Linked DNA regions of Homo sapiens. The protein of the gene in region 1 purifies or fractionates together with the protein of each later gene. This does not show direct contact. Each region holds a gene or a part of one and is shown on either strand. Other genes may lie near its edges. The genes, in order: MAT1A and NDUFS4.

Region 1 (4,590 bases):
GACAAGGGTTCAACATGAGCTGGAATTTGATTTTATTCTTCCACTATTTGCCTTAAAGACTCTGCAGGGTCTAAAATGTAAAGCACTAAATGGTGCTTGTAGGAAAATCTACTCTTGCTTTGGGGTTATGCAAACTGTCAATATCTACAAATTAAGAAATAAAAGTGATCTCTATCTACATATATTATAGCTCATTCAGTGTTAAAAATACCCACAGTCTGCTCTTAATAGAGTAATATGTTTTTGTTAAGAATCCAGATCCAGAATCAAGCAGTTTGGCTCTCAAAAGCAGATGTTAAATTCTGTAATTAAAGATATTCATTAATTCCTTAATCTTTCCTTTAGAAACTACTGCTAAACATATGTTTGAGGTTGTGTTTTGTTTGTTTGTTTGTTTGTTTAATCTAGCCTCCTGCCAGTGGCAGACCCTGGTAGTACCTTTAGGTTTGTCTGAGCCCTTAGCCTCTACACACTTCTACCACTGAAGGCCTCTCGCTGATAAAATATCCTAAAATAAATACATGCTGGCCACCTTAGGCTTACCCATCAGAGTTCCTAGAAGCTTGCTGACTGATCATTGATTGTGAATGTCTCTGCCTGTGCAGACACAGCTCACAGGCTCCCACTCTGCCTAGGGAAATCCAACAGGAGAAGGAACAAAGCTGGAGTCCAGCAGGGGCTTCCAGATAGCACCACACACAAGACAATGCCCAAGGAGGTTGTTTCTGAATTGTTTTTGTTTTTGTTTTGGCTTTCAAAATTTTTATCAATATCACTTAGTAGGCTTAAGATAGCCAATAGTTGTTTTTTTGGAAAACCAGAGAAGAAAACCTTTATCTTTCTAGCAGAGAGGAATTCAGCAATGGAATGACAAGCAGAAAGTCACCTAGCCTCCATGGAAACTGACTTACCTGGACAATTACAATGGCAAGTACAAGGGACGATTAGACAAATTGATTGGCTGTCATTAAGTATACAAAACAATCAATTGATTGGCTGGCACGTTCATTCTCAGTCCTCTGAGCACATTGCTGCTGCGCACAATGGACCATTCTTGGGACCACTAGCCGCTGCATGCCAAAAAACCCACTTCCTCCGGGTGGAGTGAATCTTTCTCCTAACCTATACATGAGGCTCATAGCCATGGAGCTGATCAGAATGTGTCAGAAATCAGCAATGTATCTGAGATTGAAAATACAGTAAACCTAGATACTTTATACAGTTATGCACAATGAAAGAGGCTATTTACATTGAACTGAGCTAAGTCACATAAAAAACTCAATTCAATTCAAGGTTTTTCAACAGCTGCACTATTAACATTTTGGGCCAGATAATTCTTGAGAGGCTGTCCTGTGCACTGTAGGATGCTTAGCAGTGTGCCTGACCTCTACTCAATACATGGCAGTAGCACCTTACCCCCACCTCCTATAGTTGTGATAACTGCAAATGTCTCCAGACAGTACAAAATGCTCTTGGGGGTTGTGGGGCAAAACTGCCACCAGTCAAAAACCACTGGCTAAAGTATATGGAAGGAGTAGTGCACTGAGGTGTCCAAAGCCAAGTTACAAGGTAGGAAAGATAAATATCTTTGAGGAAGAACAAGAGCAAGGAAGATGGAAAAAGGCAGACTTGGCAATAAGTTAGCAAACACTCGAATGAATTTTGAAGAGGGACTTAACTATAGAAGTCTGTACATCTATCCCCCAGGGGTCTCCAAGAGCAGTGGTTCTCACCCCAGAGCATCAGCATCTCCTGGGAACTTGTCAAAAATGCAAATTCTCGAGCCTCTCCCAAGACCTACTGAATCAGAAACTCTGGAGGGTGGGGCCCAGCCCTCTGTTGTCTTGACAAGCCCTCTGGGGGATTCTGAAGCTCCCTGAAGTTTGAGAACCACTGTCCTACACTTGAGGCTCTGAATGTCCTGGTCCTAGTTCTCACCGTCATCAAGGAAGCTTCTCTCACTTCCGCACATCACAGTCTACCTACTTTTCAGGGACCAAAATCAATGCCTAAATTTTCTTCCTGTTTAGAAGGTCTTCTATTCTGCTCTTAGAGAACGTTACTGAGTCCCCAGCACCTAGAGGTCTACCCCAGCAGTGACCAGGGTGCAGGCTTTCATGCCTAAGTTGCACATGCTTCACATGCAAAATTTAGTCACCCATGGTCTTGTTTCAGGAACATTCCCTGTTGACTTAAATTGGCCATGGATAATAGATTAAAGCTTTCCTAAAAAAAAAATACATATAAAAAGTTAAGACCTGATCATATATTTTGCATGTGTCATACTCTTAGCCAGCCAGCTGCTACTCCCTGTCTTGGACCCACTGTGCTGGCGTGCTGGTGGTGGGCCACAGCACGGCTTCATCAGGAGGGACTGTTTTATGAAACTACTCCATGCTGTTTCTCTAGAGATCCCTTCTGGTAACTCACACACATTGCTCTGAAGAGCTCTGGTAAAAGTGACTCCTACAGGTACGAAGTTACAGTCAGATAGGAGGAATGAGCTCTGGCATTCCATTGCGCAGTAGGGTGACTGAAGGGCTAGAAGAGGGAATTTTGAATGTTTTCACCACAAAGAAGTAGTCAATGTCTGTGGCAATGGGTATGCCCATTATCCTAATTTGATCATTAAATGTTATACTCATGGATCAAAACAACACACGGTACCCCATAAATATGCACAATTATTATGTGTCAAATTAAAACCATTTGTAAGTGACTCCCTCAGTATAGGCTTGGAATGATCGTTTTCCAGTCAGTCCAAGACAGCCTACTTACCCGGGTGTCCCTCTCCCACAGACTCCGATGTGAACATGAAGACTCCTTCACTTAGAGAGTGGTCACACAAGCCATCCACCGGTCCATTCATCTTCTCACACTTCTCCACTCACGCTTCTTTCAGTGAACAATTTTGAGGCTGTGACTTTGCCTGAGTTTTTTTTTCTTCTTCTTCTTCTTCTTTCAACCCAACAGGCTTGTCTTTGGCAGAGCCACGGGGATCACTTCTGCCTAACTGCCTGTGAGCACGTGAGAACAGGCGAGGACTGCTGAGAAGGGAGGGAGTGGATGGAACACGGGATGTGTCCCTCCCTCCAGCTTGCCACAGCTTGCTCCTGAGCGACTCCTATATATGGAAAAGCGAAAGTGCCTGAAAAATCATGTGAGAAAATTGGAGGAGTCCATTTCCTAAGAGGGGGGTCTTCTTACCTGGAGGAATTTCAATTCTTATCCCTGACTTTCCAAACTCTAAGCACCTGGTCAAGGTAAGGTAAAGAAGGCTGTATAGTTCTGCAGAATTGAAGCTCCTTTGGGACTCTCCTTCAGCTCTTAGCCAATCTTGGTAGTGCTCCAGAGTTCACAACCCACCTTGGAGAGCAGGGGTCTGTGATCACCCAGAGATACAAGCAGGCAACAAGAAACTCTTTCTCAGAGATATGGTTTAGGCTAAGATTGCAACAGTGCCTTTGCTGTTGGGTGTCCCCTCCTCCCCTGCGTCTCATCTGGATTGGTCTCTTCCCATTCTATCTTCTCAGGGAGAGCAGGAGCACGCACCTGTATTCTGAGCCAGCTGTGATGTTACACAACAGATTCATTTTAGAGGAAAAGCTTTGAGTCCACGTGTTTCTGCTAACAGAAACCACCTAACCTGTCAACTTCTCTAAAAGGCTGGCAGGCATTTTAACAAGCAAGATCTTTAAAAAGTATCTATCTGGGGAGGTTACAGAGAACAATGTGTGTGTGTGTGTGTGTGTGTGTGTGTTTTTTTTAGAAAAAAATGCTTTTGAGAAATGGATTCATTACAGGGAAATTATCAAAGTCCAGTTTCCCAAAGCTTCCGGATTATAAACATCTACATATTCAGTTCTATACATGTAATAAACATCGTGTTCACATAACTCTTGCATTATTTTTTGCTTTGACCAAAAAAAGTAGTAAACAGGATTATATCTTTAGTTCATGTACTAAATGACAGCGTCTCACACTCTCAGATCCAGCTGCATCCTCAGACCCAAGGAACAATGGGGAATTGAGACCACAGAAAATGAGGATGGGTGGAGAAACCAGTTCCCACTAGAATGCAATAAAAAGTAATCAACCATAACCTTGTGCATCAAAGCTTGGACTGTGGGAAGCAAAAGTTAGGAAGCAATAGCCTCACCTAACAATTCTGGTGACCAAACCCCCCTCTGAGTTTATTATCAAGCATTTGGAAAAATTTTTTCTGGCACACATTCTGGTGCTCCAAAGCTTGAGTTTTGCTAACTGATGACCAAACATCATCCCTTCAGGGAATTAAAGCAGTATTAAGGTGACCTCTTCTGGAATAAAGTAAGGGATGTTACATATGCATAGCCAATCAACGGCATTTAACAAGGAGTGAACTGAAGTGCTTAGGCACAAGACTGTTGAAAGTTCAGAGAGGAAAAGGCCACTGGGAAGGGATGGACAAACGAGGAATCAAATAGGGACTTTAGACAACATCGCCTTGTCATTGCCAGCACACAGGACTCCTCTGTTTGCACTTAAGCTATTTCAACATTGCTGGCCCTTAGTAAATTTCTTCTGGGTACATTAGTTTTAAACCTAGAG
Region 2 (3,817 bases), on another chromosome or scaffold:
GCAGATCACCTAAGGTCAGGAGTTCGAGACTAGCCTGACCAACATGGTGAAACTCCGTCTCTACTAAAAATACAAAAATTAGCCGGGCATGGTGGCATGCACCTGTAATACCAGCTACTCAGGAGGCTGAGGCAGGACAATCACTTGAACCTGGGAGGCGGAGCTTGCAGTGAGCCAAGATCGTGCCACTGCACTCCAGCCTGGGTGACAGAGCAAGACTCTGTCTCAAAAAAAAAAAAAAAAAGAAAAAAAAATACAATACAAATGTTAACAAGGATGCAAAACAACTAAAACTTTCATATGGTGCTGGTGAAAAGCAAAATGGTACAACCACTCTGGAAAACGGTCTGAGAGTTTCTTATAAAATTAAACATACACTTAGCTATGACCCAGGAATCTTCTACCCAGGTATTTACTCTAGAGAAACAAAATCATAATTCACATAAAATCCTGTACAGAAGCTCTATTTACACTGCCAAAAACCTGAAATAATTCATATGTCCTTCAATAGGTAAATGGATAAACTGTGGTACCTCCACATAACGGAATACTACTTAGCAGTAAAAAGGAACAAACTGTCGATACATGAAACTTATATGAAGTTCAAAGGCACCAGGCTGAATAAAAAAAGACAATCTCAAAAGGTTATATATGACTACATTTATATTACAGTCTCAAAACTGTAAAACTATAAAGATGAAAAAAGATAACTGTGGACAGGGATTACAGCGGTCAGGGAAGGATAACATGAGGGAGTCTTGGGGTAATGAAGTCTTTTGGTATTCTGCACCCTGAAACAATACAGTAAAACAGTTATCTGCATATTACACTGTATTCTGTACTAGGATTATGGTGGTGGTTACACATAACCCATACATGTGTTAAAACTCTAAGAAGTATACACCAAAAGGAAAACAGTTAATTTTTCTTTATAATTTTAAAAATAATATAAAATAAATCCAACCTAGAGTCAACTTTTTTCCTTAATTCAATCTCAGCTCATGAAACTATCATCTCTGATAATCTCATTTAAATAAAAGTACAGTACATAGTTCAAAGATCAACACTGACAAAATGGAAAACATCCTAAGGGGTACCAAGAGGTAGTAAAGCGTCAGGAAATTTGATCATTAATAAAGAGTAAACAAACTGGACGTGCTAAGCCTGGAGCACAGACTTGAAGGAAGAATGAGTGATGACAAATGTCTTCAATTATCTGAAGGGCTGACAAGTGTATACGGGGTTAAACTTGTTCTATACAGTTTCAAAGAAAAACATCACTTACCAGTAAGTCTAAACGTATAGTGTGTTTTCTGGGGTTATCAGAAAGTCACCAAACTTCCTCAACAACTAGATAATCAAGAAGCAGGAAGTTCTAGGGATTCTTGCATTAAATAAAGGGTTGGACTTAATGATTCTAGAGTTTTCTTCCAACTTAAATATTACATAAATCTATGAACTATAACTCCAGAGTTAACCTACAAAGATAGAAGACACTGAACATCTAAAAAGGTAACCTTGCCTGCCAAAATATCACTTTTTATTGCACAAAAGTAAATATTACAAAGCACTTTCACATTTTTTAAAAGGTTGAATACAAAATCTGAACAAAAAGCCATATTATGAAATGTATTTTATTCCCCAAATCTCATTTGTACTACGAATATTAAAATTAAATTCAAATTACACATGTCTAAGTCTAATCTTATTAGACTTAAAAGGCAAAAGTCATAAATTTCATGCAAATTCCTGTAAGTATATTGAAGAGATCACTTGAAAAAGAAGTACTCTTTCCATACAAAGAGTGGTAGTCCTCAAAAGAGCCAAAACATCTGTATTCACTTTAAAGCTCATCAAGACAGACTGACATTTTTAGGAGAAGCATATGGCTTGCTGAACAGTCATCTAGAACAGAATCTTTTGTCCAGTAAGCCCTATTCAAGGACCATTTACTTATGTGTGAAGTGGCTGAATAAAGGAAAAAACATATTTTTGAGTCCTAGAAAACACAAAGAAATAAACTCTTCATATAGCTTTGTTTAAGAATACAGAAAATATATTGCAAAAGCAGCCAGATTTTACTCCCAGAGACAGTTCTCTCAACATTTGAAACGATTCAAACACAAAAGAGTAGAGAAGCATGAAACTTTCTTAGAGAACTACATCCAGTGAAAGACCACCTTCCTAAAAAAGCCTTTTCCATTTTAAAGGATAAAACACTTTCTTAAAATTTTGAAGGGCAGAGTTCAACAGCTGTGCTATATTAAACCTGAGCCCTTCCAAAAGGAAGAATAAGAGTCTCTAGAGAGAGAGTAATATGGCCTGCTTTCTCCAAAATTATCAAAATGCCTTTTTTCCCTCTAAGGAAACTTTCCCCAAGAAAATACCTCTTATGTGCATGGGTGAAAAGCATAAAACTTAATTTAGAATAGAAAAATATGCAAAAATGGAAGAATTTTTGTTTCTGGAAATCTCCCTGAACTCTCTCCCAAGGAAAAATATATTTCCTAAGTCTTACAAGATATAATATGGAAACTTTTTTTTTAATCCGTTTTCAGCCCTAGCTTCCCATTAGAATCACCATAGAGCTAAGCCTCAACCTAAACTTACTGAACCAATATAGACTGGGGGGCAAGGCATCTGAATTTTTTAGGCACCCAACAGATAATTTTGATGCACAAGGGTTTAAAAACCAGTGAACTGGAGAATGAGCCCATAAAAGAAAAATTAAGTCTAGTGAGTACAGACAAGAAGAAAAGGTTACCTTTGAGCAACTAACTAGTTCTAAAGAACCTAAAGTCATATTTACCTACCAAAATACTTAGTAACAGACAACAAAATAGAACTTGAAACAAGAATTCTGAATTGCTCTGTTATTAAAAGAAAAAATTTATAATAGTTTATTAAATTATTCATATGTTTAGATGAAAGTTGTTATGAAGAATGTGGTCACTGCATAATTCAGGTTCAAAAAGGTTCCATCAGGATCTATGGACTTCTACAAGCTAGAAAAGAAAAGTCACAAGAGCTCATATATTAAATATAATTATTCGTTAACCTTAAAAGAGCTCAAGTCTTTAATCATAAAAAGTAAACTTCTGCCATCATCAGAATTTCATTTAGCATACTTTGTTTTATACAAAATTCTAATAGGTTTAGTTGCTTGACATTCAAATCCATAATAAATGAAAAAGGGGTGCTAAAACTGCTAAAGGGAAGCAGACCAGTCAAGGAAGAATATAACACTATTAAAAAGCAGACACGAGAACTCAGAAAGCATAGCAGACACTGAATCGTTTTTAAAGACAACACAATACAACCGTTTTTCCTAATCACTGGAATCAGTAAGAAAACAGAAAAAAAAAATGTCCAGTATATCTTGTTATATATATTTTTTAAGAGCGTAAAAAAGTATAATAAGTCACCTATGAAAAGTCCCTTACCAAAAATAATTACAAAATTTAGGGGAAAAAATCATTAGCTTAAAAAAGTAAACAACTAATTGTGCATTTGGTAACTCTCACTGTACAAATGGAACCATGCAGCAACAGTAAAGATAAGAGCATTCCATGGTCTCTCAAATAAAGAAGACACTTGGCTAAAAGGCAGAAAAAACAGAGAGGACATTAGGGTTTGAACTGATTATTACCAGACATAATATTCCTCACTGCAAAAGTGAACATATTCATTTAGACTGCTATATCAGACTACAGTCAACCCTCTGCATCTGTGGGTTCCACATCATAATTCAACCAACCTCAGATTTAAAATATTAAGGGGTGCTGGGCTCAGTGGCTCACGCCTGTAATTCCAGCAC

The links.
Region 2: the proteins of MAT1A (region 1) and NDUFS4 fractionate together in Homo sapiens (co-fractionation; one large-scale study listed by BioGRID). This does not show direct contact.

Annotation. Positions count from the first base shown.
Region 1 is NC_000010.11:80,286,555-80,291,144, forward strand, and holds the start of MAT1A (S-adenosylmethionine synthase), read right to left. Parts: upstream 3,105-4,590; 5' UTR 2,870-3,104; coding exon 2,779-2,869; intron 1-2,778. UniProt on the Homo sapiens protein: Catalyzes the formation of S-adenosylmethionine from methionine and ATP. The reaction comprises two steps that are both catalyzed by the same enzyme: formation of S-adenosylmethionine (AdoMet) and triphosphate, and subsequent hydrolysis of the triphosphate.
Region 2 is NC_000005.10:53,567,112-53,570,928, reverse strand, and holds part of NDUFS4 (NADH dehydrogenase [ubiquinone] iron-sulfur protein 4, mitochondrial isoform 1 precursor), read right to left. Parts: intron 1-3,817. UniProt on the Homo sapiens protein: Accessory subunit of the mitochondrial membrane respiratory chain NADH dehydrogenase (Complex I), that is believed not to be involved in catalysis. Complex I functions in the transfer of electrons from NADH to the respiratory chain.